Regions from separate parts of the Homo sapiens genome. Here regions 1, 2, 4 and 5 are each linked to region 3. Evidence: fine-mapped expression QTL. A gene starts in region 3. Each other region holds a variant in brackets. All regions are shown on one strand. Distances are from middle to middle.

Region 1 (6,332 bases), 510 kb after region 3:
GTTGCAATTGATAGGATATTTTTTAAGGCTGAATAGTACTCCATTGTTTATGTGTACCACATATTCTTTTTCCATTCATCTGTTGATGGACTCTGTGTTGCTTCCAAGTCTTGGCTAATATGAACAGTGCTATAACAAACATGGTAGTGCAGATATCTCTTCAATATACTCATTTCCTTTCTTTTGGTTATACCTAGCAATGGGATTGCTGGATCATATGGTAGTTCCATTTTTAGTGTTTTGAGGAGCCTCCAAACAGTTCTCCATAGTGGTTGTACTAATTTACGTTCCCACCAACAGTGTATAAAGGTACCCTTTTCTCCACATTCTTGCCAGCATTTGTTATTGCCTGTCTTTCAGATATAAACCTGTAGATGTTTTAAATGGAATTGTTTTCATGATTCTTTTTTCAAATAGTTCACCGTTAGTGCATAGAAATGCTACTAACACACTTTTATAAGTTGATTTTGTATTCTGCAACTTTACTAAATTCATTTATTAGTTCTAAGATTTTTGGTACAGTCTTTAGGGTTTTCCATATATAAAATGATGTCAACTGCAGACAGGGACAATTCGGTTTCTTCCTTTCCAATTTGGATGCCTTTTATTTCTTTCTTTTGCCAAATTTCTCTGGCTAAGACTTCCAGTACTGTGTTGAATAGAAGTGAGAATGGACATCCATATCTTGTTCCAGTTCAGCTTTTCCTCATTCAGCATGATGTTAGCTATGGGTTTGTCATATATGGCCATTACTGTTTTGAGGTACATTTCTTTTACATCTAATTTGAGAGTTTTAAATCATGAAGTGATGTGGAATTTTGTCAAATGATTTTAATGCATTTATTGAAATGACTTTGACTTTTATCATTTCTTCTTCTAATGTGATGTATCACATTTATTGATTTACATATAGTGAATCATCCTTGCATCCCTGGGATTAATTACTTGATTGTGGTTGATGATCTTTTCGATGTGGTGTTCTATTTGGCTTATTAGTATTTTGTTGAGGATATTTGCATGTATGTTCATCATAGATGTTGGCCTGTAGTTTTCTTTTTTTGTTGTACCTTTGTCTGGTTTTGGTATCAGAGTAATGCTGGTCTAGCAGAATGAGTTTGGAAGTAATTCTTCCTCTTCAATTATTTGGAAGAGTTTGAGAAGAATTGGTGTTAGTGTTTTAAATATTTGGTAGAATTCAGCTATATTTTTAAATATTTGGTAGTTTTTTAACTATCTGGCTTTTTGTTGATAGGAGACTTTTTATTACTGATTCAGTCGTCTCCTTACTCATCTACATGAAGAAATAGATGAGTAAGGAGACTGAATCAGTAATATTTCATCCTTGATCAGTTGCATATGTACACAGATTTATCCATTCTAAGTTATCTAATTCGTTGGCATATAATTGTTCATAATAATTTCTTATGATCCTTTAATTTCTGTAGTATCAGTTGTAATGTCTCCTTTTTTATCTCTGATTTTGAGTCTTCTCTCACTTTTTCTTAGTCTAGGTGTTTATTTTATGTTTTCAAATGAACAACTCATTTCATTGATTTTTTTTTTCCTTTCTTTTTTTTTTTTTTTTTGATATGGAGTCTCCCTTTGTCACCCAGGCTGGAGTGCAGTGGCTCAATCTCTGCTCACTGCAACCTCTGCCTCCCGGGTTCAAGCGATTCTCCTGCCTCAGCCTCCTGAGTAGCTGGGATTACAGGTTTTTGTTTGTTTTGTTTTGTTTTTACTTTCCATTCCATTTATTTTTGGTCTGATCTTTATTTTCTTTCTTCTGCTAATTTTGGGCTGAGTTTGTCTTTGTTTTTCTAATTCTTTGAGATCCAAGATTAGGTTTTTTATTTGCAACCTGTCTTCTTTGTAGGCATTTATTGCTGTAATTTTCCCTCTCAAACTGCTTTTGCTGCATCCCATAGGTTTTGGTATGTTGTATTTTCATTTTCATTTTTCTCAAAAAAATTTTAAATTTTATTTATAATTTTTTCATTGACTTATTGATTGTTCAGGAGCATGCTGTTTAATTTCCATGTACATGTGAATTTTTAAACGTTCCTCCTGTTACTGATTTCTAGTTTTATACTACGGTTGGAGATTTACAGTTTTAAGGAATCCTGCACTTAGACATCTTTCATGGGAAAGGGGAAGCCTTGAGAATATACTTATCATTCATGTAACATGCTTTGTCATGAACAAATCTCAGAGTTCCTAGTTCATGGAAAAGGAACATACAGGCTACTGTATTCAGGAATATTCCAAATAGGGATAGGATTCGAACTTTTCCATAATTTCTTTCCTTTTTTCTTTCTGTATTCTCTCTTTATCCTACTTCCAACCCCTAATACATACACACATAAGAGTGTATGAGGGTTCCCTTTCCTCCACATCCATGAGCTCACATACACCCATAGCTCTAGATAAAAGTACAAATTAAGCAATCAAATATAACTATATAAATTAAATAAAATTAAATAAGTAAAAGGATACTAATTGATCTTTCAAGATTAGGCAGAGGTCTGGAAACTGATGATAATGAAGAAAAGGTCATTTCACATTCATTAGATAACGATTCCCATGATCTAATTTTTCTCTCATTTGAACAGAGAGTGATAATATCATTAGCAGAAAAAGTTAAAGGAGAACAATGGACCATAATATGATTTTTTTTTAGACTGAGTGATTGCCTTTCTATTTACTAAAAGATCTGAAAGAGTTTACAAAATTAAAACACATGTAAAAATAGATAAACGCAGTGACCAAGATGCTATCAGGTACCTGAGATGAGCTATTTTCTACAGTTGAGTAACGAATTTGATTATTAATTTCTGCTAATGAAAGCAAAAAGAAAATGCTAAATTACATATTTCTCTTCTTAATGCATTCTTTTTAAAAAATAAGGTCACAATTTTTTTTATTTTTCAGGCATAGAATTGGAAAAACATAACCAGAGATACATGGTTATACTAGGTATGGGAATTTGGAGTAATATTGTAGACAGTGACTTCATTGTGCTTTTATAAAAGATGCATATGTGGTACCTAAATCAAAATTCTTATATGGACTGGGGTTCTAGAGTTGAGCATGCTGAAGTCTGAAAGGCTGAATATGTAATGTCAAATGCTAACTCAATAAAGATAGTTCTGTGGAATATGGTACTTTGCTACCTCATTATTTAGCTTCACACAGAGATAATATTTAAAGAATGTAGAAGTATTTGTCATCAATAAATCCCATAGTATGTCTTCCTCAAGGAAAATGAGCAAAGGATGACTTTTACTGCATATAAATTATACCTCCATAAACATGATTTGTAATAAAATAAATTGTTTTTGAGTGTTCAGAGTTTTTTTTTTTCTTTTTTTTTTCTTTTTTTAAAATTATTATTATACTTTAAGTTTTAGGGTACATGTGCACAATGTACAGGTTAGTTACATATGTATACATGTGCCATGCTGGTGTGCTGCACCCATTAACTCGTCATTTAGCATTAGGTGTATCTCCTAATGCTATCCTTCCCCCCTCCCCCCACCCCACAACAGTCCCCAGAGTGTGATGTTCCCCTTCCTGTGTCCATGTGTTCTCATTGTTCAATTCCCATCTATGAGTGGAACATGTGGTGTTTGGTTTTTTGTCCTTGCGATAGTTTACTGAGAATGATGATTTCCAATTTCATCCATGTCCCTACAAAGGGCATGAACTCATCATTTTTTATGGCTGCATAGTATTCCATGGTGTATATGTGCCACATTTTCTTAATCCAGTCTATCATTATTGGACATTTGGGTTGGTTCCAAGTCTTTGCTATTGTGAATAGTGCCGCAATAAACATACGTGTGCACGTGTCTTTATAGCAGCATGATTTATAGTC[A/C]TTTGGGTATATACCCAGTAATGGGATGGCTGGGTCAAATGGTATTTCTAGTTCTAGATCCCTGAGGAATCGCCACACTGACTTCCACAATGGTTGAACTAGTTTACAGTCCCACCAACAGTGTAAAAGTGTTCCTATTTCTCCACATCCTCTCCAGCACCTGTTGTTTCCTAACTTTTTAATGATCGCCATTCTAACTGGTTTGAGATGGTATCTCATTGTGGTTTTGATTTGCATTTCTCTGATGGCCAGTGATGATGAGCATGTTTTCATGTGTCTGTTGGCTGCATAAATGTCTTCTTTTGAGAAGTGTCTGTTCATGTCCTTCACCCACTTTTTGATGGGGTTGTTTGTTTTTTACTTGTAAATTTGTTTGAGTTCATTGTAGATTCTGGATATTAGCCCTTTGTCAGATGAGTAGGTTGCAAAAATTTTCTCCCATTTTGTAGGTTGCCTGTTCACTCTGATGGTAGTTTCTTTTGCTGTGCAGAAGCTCTTTAGTTTAATTAGATCCCATTTGTCAATTTTGGCTTTTGTTGCCATTGCTTTTGGTGTTTTAGACATGAAGTCTTTGCCCATGCCTATGACCTGAATGGTAATGCCTAGGTTTTCTTCTAGGGTTTTTATGGTTTTAGGTCTAACATTTAAGTCTTTAATCCATCTTGAATTAATTTTTGTATAAGGTGTAAGGAAGGGATCCAGTTTCAGCTTTCTGCATATGGCTAGCCAGTTTTCCCAGCACCATTTATTAAATAGGGAATCCTTTCCCCATTGCTTGTTTTTCTCAGATTTGTCAAAGATCAGATAGTTGTAGATATGTGGCGTTATTTCTGAGGGCTCTGTTCTGTTCCATTGATCTATATCTCTGTTTTGGTACCAGTACCATGCTGTTTTGGTTACTGTAGCCTTGTAGTATAGTTTGAAGTCAGGTAGCGTGATGCCTCCAGCTTTGTTCTTTTGGCTTAGGATTGACTTGGCGATGCGGGCTCTTTTTTGGTTCCATATGAACTTTAAAGTAGTTTTTTCCAATTCTGTGAAGAAAGTCATTGGTAGCTTGATGGGGATGGCATTGAATCTATAAATTACCTTGGGTTTTTAATAGCTGAAAGACTGCATTGCCATTACCTGGTTCTTAGATGTCATGGAATCTATGTGATTCAGGCCACGTGCTGAATTATAACCCAAACATAGTGGTACTTAAAAGCCCCTGTAGCTCTCATGCTTCTCCTAATAGAAGCTTTTGGCTGAAACAAGAAACGTTTTTGAAAGAAGCATATTGTCATTATCCTTTTGTGAAATTTTAATAGCCAGATTTGTATTCTTATTCATATGTAACAAAAACCTTGCTAGCACAGTGGTGATAACAGAGGTACCTGCAAGTAAAACTGAGGGTTTTTTTTTTGAAGTAAAAGAAAGAAAAAGCAGCTTTGAAGCAGGTACTTACACAAATACTACCTTGATTTACCACATATCTGTAATGGATGGCCTGGGAGTAGTGACTGCAGCCTGAAAAGTAATTTAGGGCATGGGGTATTAACTGATGACCTTATCCATAAAATATTTTAGTTATCCTGTGGAAGTTCTGATTTTAGTTGACAAAACAGAAGCTTCTATAGACCTGTATATTGTTGAGACTACATATATTATTCTAAGAAGGCTTTTGAATAGATTTGCTGAGTGTAGTTGATGAAGATGGCCCTTTTAAATATTAGGGAATTCATACTAGATTTACTGTTTCAGTTTTTTCATTACAGATTTTGAGAGGCTTCTCCTGGTAGTAAAATGTCAGATGAAACTGTTACTGTAGAATTCACTAGGTTACTGATTCAGTTTGTGAGTATTAGAAAATGTTCTTCCATAGAGATTTTAAATAGTTTTTGTGACAAAGCAAAAACAAAGCAAACTGAAGTTTTCCCTGGATTGAAGCAGCCGATCAAATATTTTAACGTTTGGAGTTTCAACTTCTAAGTGAAAAGATTCCTGATTTTAAAATATAAAAGGATTATTTGAGAAGCACGTACTTTGTGTATGAATGAAGAAATGTATCTATTTTCCAATGAAAGTTTATATTTTGGTGACTGCTTCTACTGAAGTGATAGCATGGTCAGTAGTATTCCAACATCTTTGGATACTGTTAGCTTCAGCCATCATATGGTTTGATTAATTGAACTGGTGTAATAGATTAATAGATATGGTGGTATCTATACTAATCTGATTTTCTTTTTTATGTTACATAAAATAGAATTTTTCCTTCCTTCCTTCCTCTTTCCTCTCATAATTTGAACAGATACTGGATTCAAAAAATTTATGATAGCTTAAACCCCAGGGATATCATTTTCTAAAGGAGTCATCTGTAGATGGTTTATGTTAAAGTTGGACAAATGGATAGAACATCAAGATTTTAATATTTGTTTCCACATTTGTCCCACTTACGGCATAAGTATCAGGGAAGTGGCCA
Region 2 (6,332 bases), 240 kb before region 3:
TTTTTGTATTTTTAGTAGAGACGGGTTTTCACCATGTTGGCCAGGCTGGTCTCAAACTCCTGACCTCAAGTGATCCGTCTGCCTTGGCCTCCCAAAGTGCTAGGATTACAGGCATGAACCACAGCGCCCAGCATTATTTTCAAATATAGTACTATTTAAAAATCTCTAAACCTTATTCTAATTTTGCCAATCATCCAATTAATGTTTTTAGAGACTGGTTGTCACTCTGTTGCCATTAGAGATGGGGGTCTTGCTCTGCTGCCCACACTGGTCTCAAACTCCTGGCCTCAAGCAATCCTCCTGCCTCAGCCTCCCCACTAGCTGGAATTACAGGCAGGAGTCACCACACCTGGTTTTCAAAGCAATGGTTTTCACCTTCTTTGTTTCAGAATCCTTTTATAGTCTTGCCAAAGAACATCTAAATATTATTATTAAAATAGTTACATATTAAAATAGTTTTGGCCAGGCTGAGTGGCTCACACTAGTAATCCCAGCATTTTGGGAGGCCGAGGCAGGAGGATTGCTTGAGCCCAGGAGTTCAAGACCAGCCTGGGCAACATGCGAAACTCCATCTCTATAAAAAAATGCAAAAACTTAGCTGGGCATGGAGGTATGCGCTGGTAATCTCAGCTACCCAGGAGGCTGAGGTGGGAGAATCACTTGAGCCTGGAAGGTTGAGGCTGCAGTGAGCCATGATGGCACCACCGCACTCCAGCTTGGGTGATGGAGTAAGATCCTGTCTCAAAACATAAATAAATAAAGTGAAATCGTTTCGACTTCATATACCTACTGAAAGGTTTTCTGAATCTCCTAGGGTCCCTGGACCATGCTTTGGGAAGCACTGATTTATAGCCAATAAAAAAAAAAGAAAAGAATTTTTTTTCTCCTTTCCCTGGGGCAGGAGCACACATTGCATTTAGTTGTCATGTCTCTTTAGTCTTCTGCAGCTTGGAACAGTTCCTCTCGTCTATGGTCATACTACCCTGAAAGTGCTTGATCTTAGAAGCTAAGCAGGGTCGGCCCCGGTTAGTACTTGGATGGGAACAGTTCCTCTCTTTTTCTTTCATGATTTTGGCTTGTTTGAAGCATATAGGCCAGTTAATTTTGAAGACTGTCTCTCAATTTGGTATGTCTAAAATTTCTTCAGGATTAGATTCAAGTTATCCTTTTCGGGGCAGGAATACAACAGAGGTAATACTGTGTCCTTCTCAGTGTATCGCATCAGGAGGTACAGATGTTAATTTATCCCATCACTGGTGATTAACTTGGATTACAAGATTGTGTCTGCCAAGTTTCTCTGCTGTAAAATTACAATGTTTCCCCTTTTGTTAAATGTCTTGTGGGGATACTTCACATACTTGAGAGTATGCAAATATATTGTTTTCCATCAAATTTTCACCTGCTAATTTAAGCTTCCCTCAATGATCCTTTTGCAAGACTTACAAAAATTTTTTTAATTAATCTTTTTTTCTGAGACATGGTCTCACTATTGCCCAGGCTGGAGTACAGTGACACCATCTTAGCTCACCGCAGCCCTAGACAACTTGGGCTCAAGCAATCCTCCCATCTTAGTCTCCCAAGTAGCTGGGACTACAGGTGTGTGCTACTGTGTCTGGCTATTTATTTATTTATTTTGAGAGGGAATTTCACTCTTGTTACCCAGGCTAGAGTGCAATGGCGCAGTCTTGGCTCACTGCAACCTCCACCTCCTGGGCTCAAGCGATTCTTCTGCCTCAGCCTCCCAAGTAGCTGGGATTACAGGCATGCACCGCCATGCCCTGCTAATTTTTGTATTTTTAGTAGAAACGGAATTTCACCATGTTGGCCAGGCTGGTTTTGAACTCCTGACTTCGGATGATCCGCCTGCCTTGGCCTCCCAAAGTGCTGGGATTATAGGCATGAGCCACCGCACCTGGCTTTATTTATGTATTTTTAAAAACTTTTTGTACAGATGGGTTTTCGCCATGTTGCCCAGGCTGGCCTCTAACTCCTGAGCTCAAGTGATCTGCCTGCCTTGGCTTCCCAAATTGTTGGGATTACTGGTGTTAGCCACCACATCCAGCCCCTGCAAGACTTTTAAAGCACTCCTCCCTCCCTGTTATTTCCATGTTTCTCTAAAAAGGATTATCACAAAAACCATTAGAATTAAAAGAGATTAAGTTAGACAAGACACTAGGCTGTGAGGAAACAAGCTGTTTCATCCTTTGCTCTTCGGGGTACAAAGTGCCATAAGTCTTTGTAGGTGCTTTGTAGGGAAACATGGAAACACCAAAATTACAAATGCATGTACCCTGTGAATCAGACATTCCACTTCAGGAAATTCATCCTACAGCTACACCTGCATGGGTTTCAGCAAGGTTAGCTGCCATGACCTGATTCATAATAACAAAAAGTTGGACACCACTTCCATCTGTAGGAGACTGGTTAAATAAACCAAGGCACATCCCCACAATGGAAAACTGTGCCATTGTGTAAAAGAATGAGGATGCTCTATATGGATGTACTGATATGGAAGGGTCCTTAGGATAATTATGTGGGGAAAAAGCAAGCTGCAGAAAGTGTTTATAGTATGCTGTGCTTTTTGTAACACAAAGTGAGGATGATGGGGTGAGGGGTGGCTAGAGACAAGGGTAGGAGTAGACTTATCAATATGTACCATCTTATTTAGTTTTCTAATGTTGAACATGTCAATGTATCACCTATTCAATATGTCTTGACTTTATGACACAAGGGTGTCAGTGTTGTATTCACACAGAGGCTTGGGGAGAGAAGAGGAGCAGGGCAGGATGAGGGCAGTGGCAGCACCAAAGAGGAACCTGAGGCAGGCTGAGTGCCTGGCTGGTGACAGGGGAGAAAAG[G/A]AGAACGGGTCTGCAGGTGGAAAGAGGTGTTTAGGTGTGCCCTGCCTGTGAAAGTAGTTTCTAATGGCTGTATAATATTCAGTAGTCTAGAACTTAACCATTACTTTAGTGTTAGACATTAGCCTAGGTCAGACTCTTTAAAAGTTTGAATATGATTTATGATCATATAGGTGCCATCTTAATAGGTGCTATTTAAAAACACTATATATCAGGGTCTATACTAAATGCTTCCCAGGCATTAGCTTATATAATTCTCTCATCAGCTCTACCAGAAAGATACTAATTATGCCCAGTTTACAGATGAGAACACTACTATTTACAAGAGTTATTTGCCCCAAATTGCAAAGCTAGCAGAGCTGAGATTCAAACCTCCCTCTGCTTCTCTCAAAGCCCTTGTGTCCCAGCACGATAGATATGAAAGAAATGCCCAGGACTTCCCATGTTACAACCCACAGTGTCCAACTGCTTTTCATCTGGTTCTCCTCTGGATAGTCTCTGTCAAACTTGTTCACAATTCCCTCCAAATCCAGTGCCCAGAAATGAACCCAGGGACTACCACATTTTCCTTTGCCTCTATCTCTCTCTCTCCCCCACCCCTCTCTCTCTATATATAATATCTATATATAATATAGATATAATATATATACAGCCTCCACAGCTGGGACTACAGTATGCTCCACCACACATGGCTAATTTGTTTTTTGTAGAATCGAAATCACTATGTTGCCCAGGCTGCTCTCGAACTCCTGGTCTCAAGCGATCTTCCTGCCTTAGCCTCCTAAAGTGCTGGGATTAAAAGCATGAGCCACCACAGTCGGCCTGTCTATCCATATTTTATTTGATGCACATCCCAAATGAGCATACTCACAACTCAGCCTGGGCATTCAGCACACTAGCTCTTTCTTTTTCCACAGGTCGGTCTATAAGCCACATGATGAAGATGAGACTGATCCTAAGCCCTGGAAGTTATCAGCCCAGGTATTCCCTGCCTCTCACCTCTTGGACCCAGCACATTTGGGAAACTGAGATCCCATGCCCTGGAATGAAAGAAACGGATCTATAATCATGTTTCCGGACCGAGAAGCCATGTGCCTCATTCTGTCCTATCCAACATTGCCATCAGTGGTTTGGAGGAAGACACAGTCAGGAAACAGTCAAGGGATAGTGGGTGCAGTGATCATCTGCTGGATCCCGGGCTGCCTCGCCCTCTCCACTATGCTTCTCCTGCAGGTCTCCCAAGAGTTCTCATTGGTCTCTGGGAGACTTTACCACCAGCCTAGTCTCTGGTACTCACTGCACACAGCTCCCCTTGGCTTTTATTATACTATCAAGGTTTGGATGATCCCAGATCCATTTCCTCTTGGTTCATCTTAGACTGTTTAGACTGGGAAAGAAAAAAAGAGCTTGTATGCTGGGCAAACTAATTTGTGACTGTGTGTGTGTTTACACACACATAGGTATTCTGAAAAGTATTTTTTGTGTATATTTAAATATAATAAAGATATTTTAGGTTGGGCATGGTGGCTCATGCTTGTAATGATTTGGGAGGCTGAGGCTAGAAGATGGCTTGAGGCCAGGAGTTAAGAATAGCCTGGGCAGCATAGCGAGATCCCATCTTTACAAACCATGAAAAAATTAGCCGGGTGTGGTGGCGTGCACCTGTAGCCATAGCCACTTCTTTTTTTTTTTTTTTTTTTTTTTTTTTGAGATGCAGTCTCGCTGTTGCTCAGGCTGGAGTGCAGTGGGGCCATCTCGGCTCACTGCAGGCTCCGCCCCCCCAGGTTCACGCCATTCTCCTGCCTCAGCCTCCCGAGTAGCTGGGACTACAGGCGCCCGCCACCTCGCCCGGCTAATTTTTTGTTTTTTCAGTAGAGACGGGGTTTCACCGTGTTCGCCAGGATGGCCTCGATCTCCTGACCTTGTGATCCGCCCGCCTTGGCCTCCCAAAGTGCTGGGATTACAGGCGTGAGCCACCATGCCTGGCCAGCCATAGCTACTTCTTAAGTCCAGGATTTTGAGTCTGCAGTGAGCTATGATCACACTACTGCACGCCAGCCTTGGCAATAGAGCAAGGCCCTGTCTCTAAAAAAGAAAGAAAAATAATTTTTCTTTAAATTAACGTTTTCATGGAAATTTCTAATATTTCTAGAACTGGAAATATTAGAAAGAGATAGACATCTTAAGAACTTTTATCACAAAAAAATCAGTTTTTGAAAAGGACTCCCTACTTCTGTGTGGCACTGTTTTTCTCAATTCTGAGTGAAAAGATTGGAAGGCTTGTGCTTTGCTGTGTTAGGAGTAGGTTCAAGGAACCATGAAGAGGAGAGAACATAGCAGTTGATTACCCTCTCTTTTTTTAGTACTTCCTTCAAGATCAGTGATAAAATTCCTCTTTCCCTAGCCCTGCTTCCAGTTCAGTAGTAACTTCCATGAGCAGGTAATTCAGCAGGTCCATGTCCATTGCCTCATACCCTGGGCTGTTCTGTTCTTTCCTTTGGACTCAAGAATAAGACCTTGGCAGGGAAGAGATAGGACCCAGCTTCTGCTGTGGTTACTGAATAACTCAAAGCTTAACCCTTCCATGGAAATTTGGCAAAACATTTAGCACAAAAAGCAGTCTCCAACTCCCTTGGGTTCCCAGTTTACTAGGTGAACATGACATTTTAATTAAGGTGAAATTAAACTTACCAAAATAAATCCTACATTATCATTTAGCAGCATTTAGCTGAGGCTCTCAAGGCATCTCACTGGAATTTGCCCAAATCCTCCTGTTAGAAAGTTCAGTTTTGGCTTCAGGGAAACCAAATCAAAACAGCAAATATTTATTGAACATGTCCTGTTGAATGTACCAAGTACTTGATAAACATTCATGTTTGAAAAAATCCAGGTCCAGAGTAGTTCTGCTAACTTAATAACAGGAAATATAGCACTTTAAATTCCTCCCAAATAGAAAGTTTAGATTATCAAGTAAGGTGAAAAATGCTTACTCATCCAGAAGAATTGACACCTTGTATGAACAGAAACATTGGACAAGGCTATTCTTTGGAGGCTGAGCAAGAGAGAGTTGTGTGGGGTCAAAGCTTGTTGCTTTTATATTAGTTTGGGAAGTTGTAGGTGGTGAAAGAGAAACAGCAAAGGGAGGCTGGGTGCGGTGGCTCACGCCTGTAATCCCAGCGCTTTGGGTGGCCGAGGCAGTCGGATCACTTGAGCTCAGGAGTTCGAGACCAGCCTGGCCAACATGGCCAAACACCGTCACTGTGAACAAAAAAGTAGCCAGGCGGGTGGCGCATGCCTGTAGTCCCAGCTACTTCAGGAGGCTGAGGTAGGAGGATTACTTGAGCCTGGGAGGTTGAGGCTGCAGGAAATTAAGTATGGGTTAAGGAGATGCATCACTGGTGCCAGGCTGACAATAGGTAGACTTGTGGACTTAATTTAGGTATCACCTTGACTGGATAAAGGGATACCTAGAAACCT
Region 3 (6,332 bases):
GCAAAGTGGCTGCAGTAACTATTGGACTCACATCTACCCATCACACTAGCCAGAGTAAGAAAAAGAGCACTTTTCATTTCCCAACAAACACAAGATATGGCCTTCCATGTGACTGGCACCAATTTAGACTCATGTCAGTGCCTATCAGTGAATACTGACAGGTCAAGTGAGAATGGGATTAGGCTGATTATCACAATCACTGTCCACACCTGGAGCGGGAGATGGGCCTAATCAGATCCTTGGCTGTCTTGCAATTGCAGAGGGGTGGAAATATATTCTGGGGAATCAATCAATATAATGCTCACTATAAAATCAATATGATATTCTGTACCATTAGATACCAGTTTAAACTCTTACATTATTGTTCAATGTTTAACTTGTTTCTAATTTTTTTTTTCTTTTTTGTGGAGACAGGGTATTGTTATGTTGCCCAGGCTAATCTTGAACTTCTGGGCTCAAGCAATTCTGCCTTGGCCTCTCAAAGTGCTGGGATTACAGGCATGAACCACTGCACCTGGTCTGTTTCCAATTTTTGATATTACATTTTAAACTAGGAGTTGCAGACATAAATGAGAGAAACAACACTGTAAGATACAATAGAGAATGTAGAGACTTTGGCAAAAGAGAGAATGCATGTCCTGCAGCTGATCGTTATCATGTAATAATGTAAGCTCACTGTTACCAAATCTTCCACTTTTTAAAGAGAAGCCCAAAATGCATGTATAATCTTCTGGTTTTTAACTTTGGATATGTGTTTTTTTAAGCACCATGTATGCCAAACAAAACATGTTTGTGGGTTTGATTTGTACCTGGGGCACCAGTTTGTCATGTTATGAATCATGCTGGAGTATTTTATAACACCATCTCTCAAAGTGAGAGTTTCAGTCCTTTCATGGACCAGGGCTGCTAGGATACGCTTAATGCAAATGAAGCCACAGTGGAAAGAGAAGTGAGCAGCACATACCACATGAAGAATGCTTTGTTATTAATTTTTTATTCCTTTTAGTTTCTCGACTAAAAGCCTGAAGATCTGTTAATAATTTTTTGGCATGTGCTTAGAATTGTTTTTCTGGTGGTAAGGATGAGTTTGCATCAGATCACCTTAATTGTCTTTTATCTAGGTTCTCTCATGACTTGTCTCTTATCTATGTTGTACTGTGAGGAAAAGTTCAGTTTTAAAGAATGACCCCTGTTGATGAGAGGTGTTACATGTGGCCATGGGACAGGATTTTTCTTTTCCTTATAGCAAGTTGGCACATGAAGATAGCATGCTCCACTTAAATAGAAGAATTAACTCGCAGTGGCCAGTGGTGTCCACTATTGCTTTCAAAGACATATGGAACTGAATTTGGGGAACACTAAACTTGTTTTGGACTTGCCATTTTTTTTTTAAATTCTTTTTTAGCTAAGTTACCTATTGAATGCCCATAATTACCACATCCATTGTCCTTTTTTGTCAAAAAGCTTCACTCCAGTTAGAAGATACCTGAAGGCAGAAACTGCGGCTTTGTCAACTGTTGATTTCCTCATGGCGCGCAGTGTAAATTTACTAGTACTTTATTTAGTAGAGGCTTAGTACTTACTGGTTGGCAGATTTATTAATAGTTCCTGTACATCTCAGGAAATCAACAGATGATTTATGTTATTCTAACCCTAACTTTATTAAATATAATAAAAACTTTCAGCATTTATTGTCAGGCCCAGGGCTAGGTAGGCTCCTGAGATACAGAAGTTAATAAGGGAAGCAGCCCAGAAGGTAGGGGAAACAAAAAAATAGTTACAACACTCTTGATATGTCTCAGCATCTATAGACATTAACATCAGGAAAAGCGGGGGTGTGGGGGGAAGGAATTTGTCAGGGAGGGCCCTTTGGACAAATGTCACGTTTCTCAGAGTAGCTTTTAAATATGGGTGGGAAAATGAGGGCAGGGGAATTGAAGTGGGATAGAAGGGAGATATTTAAACTAAAGTCATTCTATGGCTGCAATCACTGGACACTATATTCACTTATCCATGCAATCACATTCATTGAGTGCTTCCTATGAGTTAGGCAGGGTGCACAGTGTAAGATACAAATGAATGATACAGGTTCACAGCGGTTGTCTAGTGGGATAAAATGCTGCACAGGGCAACCTGGATAAGCCTGACATGTTAGGTGCCACAAAACTACAGAACAAAGTGCTAAGGAGATTCGGAAAATTTACAGGTCATTTCTGGTTGCAGGATCTAGAAGAAGGATGTCCACAATTCAAGGATCAGTACAATCTTCGTAGCGAAAAAGCGTTGGTTTATTCTACCTCTACCTAGTTTGTACCTCAACATCTTTTACCCCAAAGGATAAAAAGGTGCAAATGAGGGCACATTTTCTTCATATAATACGTAATGGTGCTTACTTATTGCTTTCCTGTTCATTCCCCGCAGGTGATTTCCCTCTTCAGTCTCCCCCGAGTCTCACAGAAGGAACTAACAAGGGAGCGCTTCACAAGCACACAGACACCTTCAAACAGGCGCAGAAGAGTACTTGGTGAAAAAGTATTCTTTCAGGTGACTTTCCTTAAGATTACTGAGCATTAAGAATGAAAATATGTAAACCAGGTTTACGAGCAAGAAAATAATCTCTCCACATTCAGAGTTAATCTTCCGAACTCAGCAACTGCCAGTAGAACGCACCCCGGTCAGGGCGGGCTCGCGGGCGCGGTCCCACCCCCAGGCCCCTCCGCCGCGGAGGTTCTCCAGCGCCGCCCGTACTCCCGCCTTTCGCGCGTCCCTGCTCTAACAGCTCTGGTTCTGTCAGGACCTCACTCCTCCGCTCCCGGCGCAACCGCGGCCACGCAGCGACGTGCACGCGCGTGTGCGCCGCCGCCGCCCGGCAGAGTGGGCGCCTCCGACATCAGGAGCGCGCACGCCGCGCAGAGGGGCCTGGACGAGCGCGCTTCCGACCCGCCGCCACCGCCTCCTCCCCTCCTTCTCGGCCCGCCCCCTCCCTCGCCTCTTCCTGCCAGGCGGCCCTTCTCCCCTCCCCTCTCAGTTCCCTCCGCCCTCCTCGGGCTCCAGCGGTGGCGGAGCGAACGGGACCGGCCCGGCTTCAGAGCGCGAGGTGGAGGGTGGAACGCGGGCGCCTGAAGGAGTTGTTGTCTCGGCAGCGCCCGCGGAGACGTGAAGAGGTGAGGCGAGGACGGCCTCCTAGGGACACGAGGGCGGCCCGGCGGCCCGGATCCGCGGGCCGAGGCTGCCTGGGTGTGTTGGCGTCGGGCTGAGCCTGGGGAGGGTCGAGATGGGGCCCCAGCCGAGGACTGGGATGCGGGAGGACCGCGGTAAGGAGGGTAGGGGGCGGGTTCAGGACTGTCGGCCGCCTCCCGGACACCGCAGTTCTCCCAGGTGGCCGCTCCTCGCGGATAGGGCGGGCGGGGTCGGCGCCCTTACCTGGGGGTGGGGTAGTGGCTTTGGCGGCCGCCTCCTCCAGCTGTGCCCTCCTGACATTGCTGCCTCGGCGGCTGCCGCCCGCTGCTACGCTGTGGCTGCTGCTGGATTCGCAGTCCCAGCCGCCCTGCGTCCGGTGGGCGAGTGGTTAGGGTATTTTCTTACCCACACGCAGGCTTCTGTACTCGACCATTTCTCTCCCTCGCCCTTCCTCTTCCTCCGCCGAGCACTTTGCTCGGCTCCTGCTGTTGATGCTTGTGGTTTTGCAGTTTGGGATGGGATGCGTTCCGGGCAGATCCCTACCTGTAGGGAATGCCCCGCTTCAAAGTTGACCTCCTGAGCCATGACAAACACCTCCCCCCAACCCCCACCCACCTTGTGAGTGCTCAGTGTCCTGATAACTGAGTCAAAGTTTCTGAGACTGGGCTAGTACTTTGCACTGGTCGCCAACGGTACAGGGCTGGGCAGTGCGTCAGCATGTGGAAAGGGGCCACCGGCTAGCGGGAGGTGGCCGGGTGCATGGGAGCTGAACTGACGGGTTTCAGATACTAGGCAGTGTGTCCAGGTCCTTGGATCTCTCAGATAGGGTTATATTAGAATATGTACCAAAACTTGGGTGGTCACTTGCAAAATTGGTTTCATGCAAGTAAACTGAAATGCCAGCCTTATTACACTAATGGTAAGGAGAACTTTTGCTTGCCTGACAGATTTCAGCGCAGTTTGGAAAATGATTTTAAGGCCTTTATTTTTGGCACTGGAGGGGTTTAGGGATTTTTAATACATTTAAATTTCCTCGTGCATAGTGGGAGGTAAGTAGTTGCTTGTTAAAATTCTGAAAACACAGTTTCATGAAAACCTTCTGACTTTTCTTACAGTAGTGTTTATATTTGGCATCTTCCGTAGAATATCCATTAGTTATGATGTCAGAAGATACGGATGTGAAGTTTGCTTTTTGTGATCACATTGGAAGTGGATTTTGTTCATGGAAAATACTGGTTCACAAGCTCCTAGTACTAGAAAACTGGCCTGTGATTCATTTTCTCAGTAGAGCGTCCCTTATGAAATTGACAATGAGATTTCTAAGGAGAAAGACTAGTTGAACTTTATGTATACATTATCATCAAATTGTATTAAATGTACACCTGCCTGAGGGGTTAGCTCTAGACTTTGAGTTAGACTGGTGTCTATACTAAATCAGTTCAATAAATGCGCTGATATTATGTATTATTCATTTGGAGAGAAGTAGATAAAGCAGGGCAGAGTTTATATTTTAACATATTATGTAGCCTACATTTGCTCTGATGTGTATTATTATTATTATTATTATTATTATTATTATTATTTTTGAGACGAAGTTTCGCTCTTGATGCCCAGGCTGGAGTGCAACAGCGCGATCTCGGCTCACCACAACCTCCGCCTCCCGGGTTCAAGCGATTCTCCTGCCTCAGCTTTTTGTGTAGCTGGGACTACAGGCATGCGCCGCCACGCCTGGCTAATTTTGTATTTTTAGTACAGACTGGGTTTCTCCATGTTGGTCAGGCTGGTGGAACTGCTGACCTCAGGTGATCTGCCCGCCTCAGCCTCCCAAAGTGCTGGGATTACAGGCGTTAGCCACAGCGCCCGGCCTCTGATGTGTACTAGTAAGTCATATGGGGAGAAGTAGATGAAATAGGGTAGAGCTTATATGTGAACATATTATATAACCTACATTGTCCTCTAGAAAGCTGGAAACAAGTTAGTAAGTCTCAGTACTATTGGGGCATATGGTGAATATACAAACCAACCTAAAAAAGTGTGACTGTAAATAGATGAAGTTTGTTTGTTTCTTTTAAAGAGACAAGGTCTCGCTCTGGCGCCCAGGCTGGAGTGCAGTGGCTCAGTCCTAGCTCACTGCAGCCACGAAGTTCTGGTCTCAAGAGATCCTCCCACCTCAGCCTCCTGAGTAGCTGGGACCACAGGCACATGCCACCAAACCTGGCTAATTTTTTGTTTTATTTTTGTAGAGTCAAGGGTCTCACCATGTTGCTCAGGCTAGTCTCCAACTCCTGGCCTCAGGCAGTCCTTGCGCCTCAGCCTCTCGAAGTGCTGGGATTACAGGCCTGAGCCAACGGTGCTTGTCCCATTTTTTTTTTTTTTCACCTGAGTTATTTGATGGGAATTTCTATATATTACAGTTGCGATGTTCTGAGAATTTTTGTTTCTTTGATAATTGTTTCATGATTTAGATGTTTTCTTTTTACGCTGGTAGTTATGATTTTTTTTTCCTTTGAATGAAAGAATTTTATTAGGCATGTGAAACAGGAGTTTTCATGTGATCAGCTCTCCAGTTCTAAATTTGTGACTTTTAAAAAACTTGAATTTTTTTCTTTGCCTTAACCCAAACTTGAATTTGCTCAGCCATTGTATATTTATTTGAACTCTCAGATGATACAGCATTGAAGCAGAAAGTCCTTTTATCCATGCTTTTGGAGTAATCAAAAGAAGGAATTCTGTTGTGCCAAGTAAAAATATGTGTGGGAGATAGCTAGGCTTCAAGAGATTGACTTTGAAGAGAGTAGTGGCTAAGTAGCAAAAATTTCCTATATTGAAGGTGTAGAAGTGGGCCTGCATTCCAACCTACCATTGTCTTCAAGTGGGGTATGGATCATTATGACTGGTTAGAGGGGGTTTGGAGAATGAAGTTGTTGCTGTAAGCCTATGGGATTCCCAGGCACAGAGCTTGCTTATGTCTTAATTTTAATGAGTTCTATATTTTTATAACTCTTGACTTATATAAATGGGTCAGCCGTTGAGTCTGAGGATGACCAGCAGCCCAAGGCTATTCCAGGTGCTGGTATTTCTTTTTTTTTTTTTTTCTCTTTCTGTTTTTTTTTTTTTTTTTTTTTTTTTTAATTATACTTTAAGTTTTAGGG
Region 4 (6,129 bases), 870 kb after region 3:
GAAATAGAATAGATAGGCCTGATAGAAACTCCAGTGCAATTAGAATTTGGTTATGTATTAAAGGAAGCATAAAAATTGTTAAACAACTAGTGCTAGAACAACTGGGTAAAGATTTGGGAAAAATTATATCTTCATCTCTTACCACATATCAAATTTTAGATAAAAAGGTAAATACTAACAAAGGCTTAAAAAACAGAAGAAAATAAAAATGAATATATTTTTAATTTTTATTGTTTTATTTTATTTTTATTTTTTGAGATGGGGTCTCACTCTGTCACCCATGGTGGAGTACAGTGGTGCGATCTCAGCTCACCTCAGTCTGCTTCATGGGCTCCAGGTGATTCCACCTCAGCCTCCTAAGTAGCTAGGACTACAGGTGTGGGCTACCACACCTGGGTAATTTTTGTATTTTTTGTAGTGACGGGGTTTCACCGTGTTGCCCAGGCTGGTCTTGAACTCCTGAGCTCAAGCATTTCACCTGCCTTGGCCTCCCAAAGTGCTGGGATTACAGATGTGAGTCACCATGCCTAGCTGAATATATTTTTTACACTTTTAAATCTTAGTAGACAATTTTCAGACTGTCTAATAACATTAGATGTGTTCAACCTCACTAGTTTCCAAGGAAATGCAAATTAAAATAATGAGATCTATTTAAGCTAGCAGATTAGCAAAGGTTAAAAAAAATTCGGCATTGTCAGAGGTGTGAGGAAATAGGTAATTTCATAGTCGAGTGATAAGAATATAAATTGGCATAACTTGTCTGCAAAGCAATTTGGCAAGTCTTTTCAAAGTTTGTAACTATTGATCCAATTATGCCACTTTGAGGAATTTATTCCAAGGAAATACTGAGAAACTCTAAATTTTATATAAAAGGACATTTATCATTGTCTTATCTATAACAACAAATAAATAACTTAACAGTAAGTGGAGGGTTAAATGAAGAAATCAAGTTATAATCCTAAATTTAAAAATCTGATGGGTTTCTAATTTAAAATATATATATATATATTTACAGATACAGGTGTAGGTATAGAATAGACAGATTAAAAAAGGCTACTCTTAAATATTAAGAGTAGAGATGAGTGAGCAGATTACTGGTTATTCTTATGGTCTTTAAAATTTTCCAATTTCTCTATAATTTATACTATTAGATTCACATATGTGTTGAAGTTGATTTAAAAATATTAACCTGTTCTTGTCTTTTTATATTTATATTATTTCACCCAAAGTATTTGAAAAATCTGTTTTTCAAGGTGCATATAGGAAGGGGTCATTCCTGGTCCCCATCAATATCCTTGGCTTATTCTTGGGGACAGGCACAGGCCGAACCCTGACCAAAGCAGCAAGAAATTAAGAATTCAGGGATGCTTGCTTCGTTCATATTTAGTACCAAGCCATTCACTCTTCCCTTCGTCTTCATTTCTCTGGCTTCTGTGTATGCCATCAAGTAAACTGTCCTTTTGGTGTCTAATCTTTACCTAATACAGGAATGATCATTTCCTTAACTTCTCTGTTTTCTGAGAGGACTAATTAATTATTCCTTTTCATTATTTTATAACTGGCAAGTTACAAAACTAACTTGACTGCAGCTTCTGGTGCCACACAGTAAGAATGTTTACTTGGTGTGTGCTTGTTCTTAGCTGGCCTCAGCTGAGTCACCAGCAACCTTGGGCCTGAACACCTGCCCCAATGCACTCCCCTGGTGCTTCATCATGGGCCTTCCACGTGAGAGCTGGATATGGCTCAAAAGAACCAGATTTCTTGGGCTATGAGAGGGAACTACAAAGAGGAAGAAAGCGATAATAAAGGAAAAGAACCTGTGGAAGGAGAGCGAAAGGCACGGGGACACATGCACCACACACACACACACACACACACACACACACACACACACACACACGCATTTCAACCGTGGCTCTGAAATGGTGTGATGGATAGTGGGTGAAACCTCTGTTCTCATTACACATCTGCCTTCATTAAAGGCTACCAGCGGAATAGCAATCCTATTGGTTTACCGGTTTGGCCTTAGAGTGTGGATGGCCTTAGCACTTCCGGAAGCAGCCACAGGTCCCATGCCTGTGAGCCTTCCCTGGAGCTATGTGCTGTGCACCACGCTGAACACGAGATGGCAGTATTACTACATCTGCGTTCCAACACACAGCCATCCTCGGTTCCCACACACAGGGCCTGATGCAAACTGAACACACACACACCACACACACACCACACACACACACACCACACACACA[CCA/C]CACACACACACACACACACAGCTGTCCCCCAAATAAAATAATGACACTTCGCCTATCGTCAAGTGGGACCTGTGTTTGAGACTGAGTTTGCCGCCTCCGTGGGAGTCAAAGGCAGGACAGGCTATGTGATTTGTAGGGCCCAGTGCAAAAGGAAAATGTAGGGCCTCTTGTTCAAAAAGCAGGGAAAAAAGTGCTGCTAAAGGTAGTAAAATATGAAGCCTCTTCCTTTCTTTCCTGGACTCTGGACTTGTTATGGGATTTTTAAATTTTCTATTAATGTTCTAAGTAAAGAAAAACAAAATCATTAAATGTACTTTTAAATCATTAGCATCAATTTTACCACTCATCGTCATATTGGGGAATGCCAGTTCACCGTGCAAATGTAAGAGCATTTAACTCATAGGCAGAATCAGTGAAATTATACAATTTTTATTTTGTTGCTTGTATATGCCTTTGTGTTTTGTTCTTACCAGAACAGTGAAAATATTGCATAAAACTAACTCAGTTGCTTTTATTTTACTTCTTGATCCACGTGCATTCTACCAGCACCTTCTGACTTTGGCTTACTCATGAGTAAGAGAGGACTGAAAGGAAAAGGAACTATTGTCCTTTTAGAATGTCAACACCTTCATGTATAGGAAGCAAGTTCTAGTGGCCTCTTGGGGTTGCCAGTGCCCCAGCTGACTCAGTCATAGACATAGTACTCTTACCTTGGACTCGCTTTGAGTCCCATTAATCTCCCATACATCATGGGGCCACCAGAATTCCATGTGGATGGGGCATCATACAAAGGGAGCAGCAAGGAACGATGGGCACATGTGTCCCCTCTGCTCATGCAGATGTTCCATTGTCCCACTGGACCTCACTTACAAGACACAAATTCAAAAACATAATGATTCAGAATTTCAAGATAGTGACAGTAGAACATTAAACCAAGCACAGGGCTCTCCTGAAGGCATGGGGATACATGCACAGACACACACAAACACACAAGAACGGCAGGGGCTGTGTGACACATGAGTGACATACCTGCAAAGCCAGCCCAGGTCACAGGCTCTCATGATCTCAGCCACTTGCATTTTCCCAGTCCACACTTATATCTCCAATGAGCCTTTTCGCCCAGGTGCCAGAGCTCCTTCAACTCCACGTGTACCAATCTGAGCTAGTAAGCATCCATTCCTTCAGCAAACATTTATTGAACGTTCCTGTTACATGTCAGATACTGTTCTAGGAGCTGGGGATACAGCAGGATACACAGTCCCTGCCCTCATGGAGCTTACACTGTAGTGGAGAAAGGGGAAGAGCCATTCACAAATCAATAATTATGTGTCAAATGGAGACATGCTATGAAGAGAAAAGCAGAGTAAAAAGAGCATTATGGTAGGAGATACTGTTACCTAATGTGGTCAGAGAAGGGCTCTCTGATGAGCCAGCATTTGAACAGAGACCTTAAGGGTGTGAGGGAGTGAGCTAGGAGGCTCTGGGGGAAGGACATCCAGGCAAAAGGAATGGCAGCTGTGGAGGCTGAGTGGGGTGTGTGCATGGTGTGTCTGAGGGGGAACAGGGAGGCAGCAGCTGGAGCCAAGTGAGTGAGAGGAAGAAGGTAGGTGAGGTGAGAACACTGGGGGCACAGGGGGAGCCCATGTAAGGCCTTGCGTTCCCACATAAACTTCAGTAAAAACTGTCTCCTCCAGATTGCCTCCTTTGTTCTAAAGGCCTTATGTCTTGACGAATGGCCTCACTGGGAATAGGAGTCACCTTTGGCTCCTTTTCTCTCATGTCTTTAGCCAGACCTCTTGCTCCAGCTACTGCCTGGCTGACCACTTCCAAGCAGGCTGCTACCAGCTTAGTCCAGCTGCAGTGACACTCACCTTGGGTTCACATCAGGAACCTCTCATGCCTTGCCCTGGGGCTTCTTTGGTGTTGGTATGGACACCTGAGGAGCCAGGAGCCTGCTCAGCTGTCATGTATGCATAGCTTCAAGTGCAGGGGGAGTGATGCCCATGGGGACACCCTAAACCAATGGAGATGGAAGCCAAGGGATAACACATTTCATAAGGCTCCTTGGAAGGCCTTAGCGAGACATCAAGCTCCAGTCAGCCGCAGCAGTTGCTAACTTAGTAGTCACTTAGTGGCGTCCTTGTTTCTCTTTTTCATTCGTTCTTGTTCCACTGCCCTGATCCCTCACTCTTGCTCCCAAATAAACAAATGGCACACACACCTCTGTCCTGGATTCTTCTTATTTTATTTTATTTATTTATTTATTTTCTGAGATGGAGTCTCGCTGTGTCGTCCAGGCTGGAGTGCAGTGGCACGATCTTGGCTCACTGCAAGCTCCGCCTCCTGGGTTCATACCATTCTCCTGCCTCAGCCTCCCGAGTAGCTGGGACTGCAGGCGCCCGCCACCACGCCCGGCTAATTTTTCGTATTTATAGTAGAGATGGGGTTTCACCGTGTTAGCCAGGATGGTCTCGATCTCCTGACCTCGTGATCTGCCCGCCTTGGCCTCCCAAAGTGCTGGGATTACAGGCGTGAGCCACCGTGCGATTCTTCTTTTGTGGGTGGTGGGAAGAATTCAGGCTCAGATAAAAAATATCCCTTCCCACCGATCATCCAAATCTTGTTGATTCTACTTCAAATTGTTTATTTAATTTTTCCCATTCCTGCTCCCACTCCCCTAGTTCAGACCCTCTTCATCTCTTCTCTGTACTAGGACCAACTGGACTCTTACCTGCTGTTTTGCCTCTCCCTTTTCTTTTTTTTTAAACTTAACCCATCATCTCTCCCACAAAAGCATTCATCCTTTTCTGCTGCCAAAGTGAAGTTTCTAGGACTACAACTACTCATTTCTGGTAGCTACTTATCACCTACAAAATAAAGTTTAAACCCCTTAACATGATGTTATGATTGCTGTCAATGCCTGCAGCACCGTGATTTTCCATCTCTCCCCATAAACACCTCTGACCACCTTGGATTGTTCATCTGTTTCCCCTTCAGTGGTTCTTCCTCTCGAAGCCTTTCTTTCTGCCAGCCTTTCCATTCAGTCCCCTTTAGTTCATCAAATGCTTAATTGAACACAGGCACATACCAGTTCCTGTCACCCAAGGAGGTGAGGAGCAGGTGACAAGATAGGGGAGGTAGTGTTGCAGAATATGTCACATGTCAACACAGTCCCATGTAAATGTTTTAGTTAGCTTGCCTGAGTTTAGGGACCTGAGTGCGCTTTTTCGTCAGGCTGGAATCACTGCAGGGGTTTTGGTAAGGAGAAAGGACATTTTTCTTTTGCAGAACTTGAGATCACGTGGAAAAATATGGCTCTGAGGGGGGGTAAATTTATGGAAAGTCATCTTTACATTAATTATCAAAGCTGATGTCTAAATAAAGACAATGCGATTGACATTTTGCACATTTTAAATTAGTAGTAGTGGATATAGCACTCAATTTTCACTTACTATTCCTGACTTCAAAAAAAGAAGTGTTAAATTTTCTTTCCTGCAATCTCGAGATGCTTGCTTATTTGTTTTGATTTGTTGCAGATAATATGCATGCAGAGAGGTTTTCCTTTTCTGAGTCTCATTTTCCATCCACATATTCAATGTCTTCTTGCCTTGCAGACTTAGGATTGTTGATTTTCCACCCCTCTAGTTCTGCCTGCCGGGCCACTGGCTACAGTGTGCAGGTTGGGATCATAGGACTGTGACTGGCCCAGGGGGCACATGGGCCTGACTCTCAGCCCATGAGGTTTGCCAGGTTGGGCTCCCTGGCTTGTGGCTGCATTACATTTTTATAATTCTGTCATGATTCAGAGATGTTAAGTAAGTTGGTGCTTGAGATAGAAAGGTTTAGGACAATCTTATTTAACCAATGAGGCCCAGCT
Region 5 (6,332 bases), 62 kb before region 3:
TTCAAGTGATTTTCCTGCCTCAGCTTCCCGAGTAGCTGGGATTACAGGCACTTGCCACCACGCCTGGCTAATTTTTGTATTTTTAGTAGAGATGGGGTTTCACCATGTTGGACAGGCTGATCTCAAACTCCTGACCTCAGGTGATCCGCTTGCCTCAGCCTCCCGAAGTACTGGAATTACAGGAGTGAGCCACCGCACCCGACCCATAATTACTTATTGAATTGTCTTTATTTCCCTCGAGTGGAATAAACAGTCTTGTTCACTGTTGCATTTCCATTGCTTAGTACATAGTAAAAATACTTAATAAGTATCTGTTAATTGAATAAATAACACTTAATAGGCTTTAATGTCCATTGTGCATATTTTATAGCACAACTTACTCATTTGGAATTCCTTTTTTTTTTTTTTGAAATGGAGTCTCGTTCTGTCTCCCAGGTTGGAGTGCAATAGCGTGATCTCAGCTTACTGCATCCTCTGCCTCCCAGGTTCAAGTGATTCTCCTGCCTCAGCCTCCTAAGTAGCTGGGATTACAGGTGCCTGCCACCACGCCTGGCTAATTTTTGTATTTTTAGTACAGACAGGGTTTTGCCAAGTTGGCCAGGCTGGTCTCGAACTCCTGACCTCAGGTGATCTGCCTGCCTCAGCCTCCCAAAGTGCTGGGTTTACAGGCATGAGCACTGCACCTGGCCTTCATTTGGAATTCTTATTCTGATTTCTTAGTTGAAGATACTCAAGATTTATTTATTTATTTATTTAGAGATGGGGTCTCACTCCAGTTGCCTGGGTTGGAGTGCAGTGGCATAATCTTGGCTCACTGCATCCTCGACCTCTCTGCCCCAAGCGATCCTTCCACCTCAGCACCCTGAGTAGCTGGGATGACAGGTGTGGGCCACCACGCCCAGTTAGGTTTTTTTTTTTTGTACTTTTATTAGAGACGAGGTTTCACCATGTTGCCTAGACTGGTCTTGAACTCGTGAGCTCAAGTGATCCTCCCACCTTGGTCTTCCAAAGTGCTGGGATTACAGGCATGAGCCACCGCTCCCAGCCAAGATTTATTTCTTAAAATTTATTTTTCTTACAAAAATTTTTTTTCATTGTCGGGGACTTTCTGGTAAAGACCAGAAAACCTGCTAGACAAATTTTAAAAGAGCTTTAATGTGATTTATTTTTTATTAAAAAAAAGTTTTTAGACATGGGTTTCTCAATGTTGCCAAGACTGACCTTGAACTCCTGGGCTCAAGCAATCCTCCCACCTCAGCCTCCAGAGTCCTGAGTAGTTGGGACTACAGGTAAAAGCCACTGTGCTCGGCTATGCTCAAGACTTTTTTAAAGAAGAAAATATGGGTATTATTTTATTCTGAAACTTCTCATGTTTTATCTTGCCATCGTACATAAACACATTAGTTTGCACTTAAACAGTAGCTTAAATTGTAAATTTTATCCATCCAAATTTTGTTACAAACTTTGTTATAATGGAAGCTCTAAATGAGGGTTATCTGATTTTTAGTTATTTATAAGTAATCTGTTTTAGTCTACTGGAATGCTTGCAAACTCCTTGTTATCTTCTCTGCCCCCTAGGATATGTCTAGATATGGATCTTTGACCATTAATCTCATGTCACCTTTTTCTTTACTTTTAGGTCTTCTTTTAAGTCTAGATATTTTTATTCAATTTGCCTTTGAGTTACTATTACTTCTGTTTAAATTAGTCCAGATTACTCCTCAAACATACTTGTAATTCTCAGATTGGGTTTTATCTCATCTCTTTTGTCTTTCTGCTTCTGTTTCATACAAGCCTCATCTTCTTGCTTTCTTCTTGAGAATGCAAATTTTCTAAAAGAGGTATCTATTTCCTTAGAAAATCACTTTCAGAGATAAGCGAATCTTCTGAATCTTCTGTATTATGATCCTTTCCCTTTTGTATATTATTTTTTATGCTTCTCTTGGGACAAGAAGAGGGCTTGGGAGTGTGATATGGACCAAGGTTCCAAGGATTTGGGACAGGTCATGTGCAAGTAAGCAGAGCTGACCACTAGCTGTGGATAGGGAACAAAGGAGAGTTGAAGTCTAAGAGCCTTGCCAAGCAGCCTTGAGAAGCAAACAATAATCTGAAACTTGAAATCTGTGAGGGAAGATGAACTCAAGAACTGGATCTTTTTCAAAGGTTGTCAGGCAAGATGGACCTTAACTAGTAGAATCTGGAGACAGCCAGGAATGTTAACTTGAGGAAATAAAATACACAAGAATGTGATAGCTTTTCATACTGCTAAATCTGGAGAGAATTAAGATCTTAGGTCAGTTTGGACAGGTTTTTCCCTTCTTTATTTTCTCATCTATGTCCAGTATATCAGTCATCTATTCAGATAGGAAGTGTGGATTTCCTTTGGCTCCACTCTTAGATCTCTAAGTAGAGTCCAGATCGATATGCCTACGTGAGAGTAATTCCCAGGGCCTTTTGTTATTCCACTGTCTTAAACCAATGGAATCCATGATCAGCTATCATTTCAGCAAGCACTGCAGCCAGCACTCTCCCCGTACACTGTATTCATAGGGACAAATGTGACAGGGCAAATGGACAATTACCTGTCTCTCCATCCACCCCATCTTTCGCCACTGAATTCCGGAAGTTGCAGTCCCCAGTTACATGCATAAAGATGATAGTCTCTAACAGTATTATAATCACGTCTCAAAGCAGGATTTTAGATTCGAGAGGCTGATATTGTTTGGATCTGTGTCTCTGCCCAAATCTCATGTCGAATTATAATCCTCAGTGTTGGAGGTGGGGCCTGGTGGGAGGTGATTGAATCACAGGGGTGGATTTCTCAGGAACGGTTACCACCATCCCCTTCACGCTATGCCTCATGATAGTGAGTTCTCGTGAGAGCTGGTTGTTTAAAAGTGTGTATCACCTCCTCCCTTACTTTCTCTCTTGCTCCTGCTCCTGCCATGTAAGATGCCTGCTCCCCCTTTGCCTTTTGCCATGATTGGAAGCTTCTCGAGGCCTCCCCAAAAGCAGAAGCCACAATGCTTCCTGTATAGCCTTCAGAACTATGAGCCAATTAAACCTCTTTTCTTTATAAATTACCCAGTGTCAGGTAATTTTTTTTTTACAGCAATTCAAGAACAGGCTAATACAGAGGCCGAAGAGGGCCAGCTGCTTAGTTTGCAGCTCTGATGGACACTGGCTCTCTAATTCAGTGAGCAGACAGTGGGAAAGGGATGCTCAGATGCCAAACTTTCTTTCAGATGGGTGGATCTGTTCTGTACCATGAAGTAGAGTATGGATAAGCCAACAACTGTTTTTCTGAATCCACCTCCATTAGCCTCATAAATTAGGGCAATTCCTCCTGGTAATGAGCAAGCAGCTTGTCATTCTTTATGCTCTGTGTTAGGATTAATTTTGTCATTTTTCTTTACCTTTTTATGGGTTTTAGGCAGCAGTTGAGAGACCCTGAGGCAGGGCTGCTAGCCAAATACTATT[T/A]AAAGCTAGAAATGCCTCACTGATTTTTATCGTAGATTGTTTCAACCTGTGTTCATTTCTTCAGCCTCTGACTATAGGATTTCCCAGGTTGCAGTCTTTGGCTGGCTGCTCAGTCTGCACTCTCCTTCAGAGGACTAATTTACTCTTACACCTTCACATCGGACACCTGAAGACTCTCAAACTGTTACCTCTAGTCTTGTCTTCTCATTTAAATTGTGACCCTGTATTTTCTGACTAAAAGACATTTCTACTTGTCTATCCCACAAAATTATTGTATCCCTGGTGTGTGTACTCTTAATTATTAAAACTGCTAAATTATCAAAGACCAAAGTCATGAGGACAGGAAACAAACATTTTATGCAAGGGCTACTGATAAAACTTTTGGAGGCACAACCCCATTTATACTCCTTTGGTTCCTGGAGAAGAGAAACTGCACTATGTATTATTCAAAGGTTCTGAGCATTTACCTCATCCTGCAGGATCACATCCCAGCTTCACACCCCAATATAGCATGGCCTGAGAGCTGGCAATGTAACTGGGTTTTCAATAGCCATGTCACTATTCTATAAGATCAACATCAACTGCTTCTGGCTGATGGGGTGCAAGATAAGACCTGTAAATCTAATGGGTATCAGAATATTGACTCACAGAGTTCATTTGTTGAAGCAATGAAGCAATGTTGCATGGAAAATTCACATCACATAGGATGTTTTCATTTGCAAGGAGCAGACTACCCAGTGAGTTACAGTTCTTGAAGTTTCTCCCACAGGGAAGATATCCCTTTCCCACCATCCTTCAGGGTCTACCTAGATGGAACTGAATGTTACAGAAATCCATTTAGGGCAAGAGCTATCATACCATGCAGAGATTTCTATAAATTTGGTTAGGTTTTTTTTTTCCTTCCCAGGCAAGTGATCATAAGGAAGTATCCGTGATTCCACAGGAGTGGAATATGGAAAGTGTGGCAGTGTAATCAGAAAAGGCATGCTGCAGTGTGAGCCATCTGCATGTGCAACTTTCTTGTGACTTTGGACCTGTTGGGTCTAGTCCTGTTTACATTGTTTCCACTTGATGATGGTGGAAACCATCCTCAGATATAACGTGGTTTTGGTTCTAGACCACTACAATAAAGTGGATATGGCAATAAACCAAGTCACACAATTTTTTTTGTTTCTTAATGCATATAAAAGTTATTATTTACAATACACCATAGTCCATTGCTAGTGTGCAATAGCATTATGTTAAAAAAACACGTATATACCTTAATTAAAAATACTTTATGGCTAAAAGTTGCTAACAATCATCTGAGCCTTCAGCAAGTCCTAATATTTTTGCTGATAGAGAGTCTTGCTTCCATGTTGACAGCTGCTGACTGATCAGGGTGGTGGTTGCTGAAAGTTGGAGTGGCTGCAGCAATTTCTTAAAATAAGACAACAATGAAGTTTGGCACATTGACTGACTCTTCCTTTCATGAAAGATTTCTCTGTAATGCTGTTTGATAACATTTTACCCACAGTAGAACTTCTTTCAAAATTGGAGATAATCATCTCAAAACCTCCCACCATTGCTTTATTAACTAAGCTTATGTAATATTTTTGATCCTTTGTTGCCGTTTCAACAATGTTCACAGCATCTTCACCAGAAGTAGATTCTATCTCAAGAAACTACTTTCTTTGTTCATCCATAAAAAGCAACTTTTCATCTGTTCAAGTTTTATTGTGAGATTGCAGCATTGCAGTTAATCTTCAGGCTCCATCAATCACAAATGTTTTTAATGCCATTAGAATGGTGAATCCTTTCCATAAGGTTTTCCATTGACTTTGCCCAGATCTACCAGAGGAATCACTATCTATGGCAGCTACAGCCTTACGAAATGTGCTTCTTAGGTAATAAGACTTGAAAGTTGAAATTACCCCTTAATCCATGGGCTACAGAATAGATGGATGTTGTGTTAGCAGGCATGAAAAAAACATTAATCTCCTTGTACACCTCCATCAGAGCTCTTGATTGACTAGGTCCATTGTCAATGAGCAGTAACATTTTTTTCAGGAATTTTTTTTTTTTTTTCCCTGAGCAGGAGGTCTCAATACTGGGCTTAAAATATCCACTAAACCATGCTGTAAACAAATGTGCTGTCATTCAGGCTTTGTTGTTCCATTTGTAGAGCACGGGTAGAGTAAATTTAGCATAATTCTTCAGGGCCCTAGGAATTTGGGGGTGGGAAATGAGCAATGGCTTCAACTTAAAGTCAACAGTTGCCTCAGCCCCTAACAAGAGAGTCTGCCTGTCCTTGGAAGCTTTGAAGCCAGGCACTGATTTCTTCTTTCTAGCTATGAAAGTCCCAGATGGCTTCTTCTTCCAAGAGACAGCTATTTCATCTACACCGAAAATATGTTGTTTAGTGTAGCCACATTCATTAATTGTCTTAGCTAAATCTTCTTGCTAACTTGCTGCAGCTTTTGTATCAACACTTGCGGTTTCTCTTTGCACTTTTATGTTATGGAAATGGCTTCTTTTCTTTGACCTCATGAACGAATCTCTGCTAGATTCAAACTTTTCTTCTGCAGCTTCCTTACCCCTCTTAGCCTTCATAGAATTGAAGAGATAGGGCCTCGCTCTGGATTAGCCTTTGGTTTAAGATGTTTGGCTGATTTGGTCTTCCATCCAGTCCACTAAAACTTTCTCCATATCAGCAATAAAGCTGTTTTACTTTTTATCTATCATTTGTGTGTTCCCTGGAGTAGCACTTTTAATTCCCTTCAAGTACATTTCCTTTGCATTCACAACTTGGCTAACTATTTGGTTCAAGAGGCCTGGCTTTTGGCTTATCTCAGCTTTTGATGTGCATTTCT

Which allele goes with the higher level. Positions count from the first base shown, and alleles are read on the strand shown. Sizes are in standard deviations (SD) of each study's normalised expression. Not every link is listed here.
For the expression in fibroblasts of the gene that starts at base 3,027 in region 3, allele C in region 1 goes with a higher level than allele A (moderate effect, 0.61 SD a copy in GTEx).
In carriers of allele G in region 2, the expression in thyroid of the gene that starts at base 3,027 in region 3 tends to be lower than with A alone (moderate effect, 0.44 SD a copy in GTEx).

What was found. PIP is the estimated chance that this variant, and not a neighbour inherited with it, causes the effect.
Region 1: its variant is fine-mapped to the expression of RABGAP1L in fibroblasts (GTEx, PIP above 0.99).
Region 2: its variant is fine-mapped to the expression of RABGAP1L in thyroid (GTEx, PIP above 0.99).
Region 4: its variant is fine-mapped to the expression of RABGAP1L in whole blood (INTERVAL, PIP above 0.99).
Region 5: its variant is fine-mapped to the expression of RABGAP1L in whole blood (TOPMed, PIP above 0.99).

The regions. Positions count from the first base shown.
Region 1 is chr1:174,670,713-174,677,044 of GRCh38, forward strand. The region is part of intron 14 of RABGAP1L (RAB GTPase activating protein 1 like); the gene reads left to right. Among named protein-coding and RNA genes, the nearest start is that of GPR52, 230 kb to the left of the region's middle. The variant A/C (reference allele first, on the strand shown) is at 3,875.
Region 2 is chr1:173,920,105-173,926,436 of GRCh38, forward strand. LOC124904457 (a long non-coding RNA gene) reads left to right here. Exons shown (of 2, transcript XR_007066739.1): 2 at 3,773-4,374. It also overlaps the pseudogene RNA5SP67. Among named protein-coding and RNA genes, the nearest start is that of SERPINC1, 5.9 kb to the left of the region's middle. The variant G/A (reference allele first, on the strand shown) is at 2,859.
Region 3 is chr1:174,156,494-174,162,825 of GRCh38, forward strand. RABGAP1L (RAB GTPase activating protein 1 like) reads left to right here and starts at 3,027. Exons shown (of 26, transcript NM_001366446.1): 1 at 3,027-3,164. RABGAP1L-DT (RABGAP1L divergent transcript) reads right to left here and starts at 2,794. Exons shown (of 4, transcript NR_121197.1): 1 at 2,671-2,794; 2 at 2,394-2,497. RefSeq lists silencers at 2,733-3,132, 3,253-3,432.
Region 4 is chr1:175,027,799-175,033,927 of GRCh38, forward strand. No RefSeq gene overlaps it. Among named protein-coding and RNA genes, the nearest start is that of MRPS14, 7.4 kb to the left of the region's middle. The variant CCA/C (reference allele first, on the strand shown) is at 2,250.
Region 5 is chr1:174,094,142-174,100,473 of GRCh38, forward strand. It overlaps the pseudogene RNU7-78P. Among named protein-coding and RNA genes, the nearest start is that of RABGAP1L-DT, 62 kb to the right of the region's middle. The variant T/A (reference allele first, on the strand shown) is at 3,481.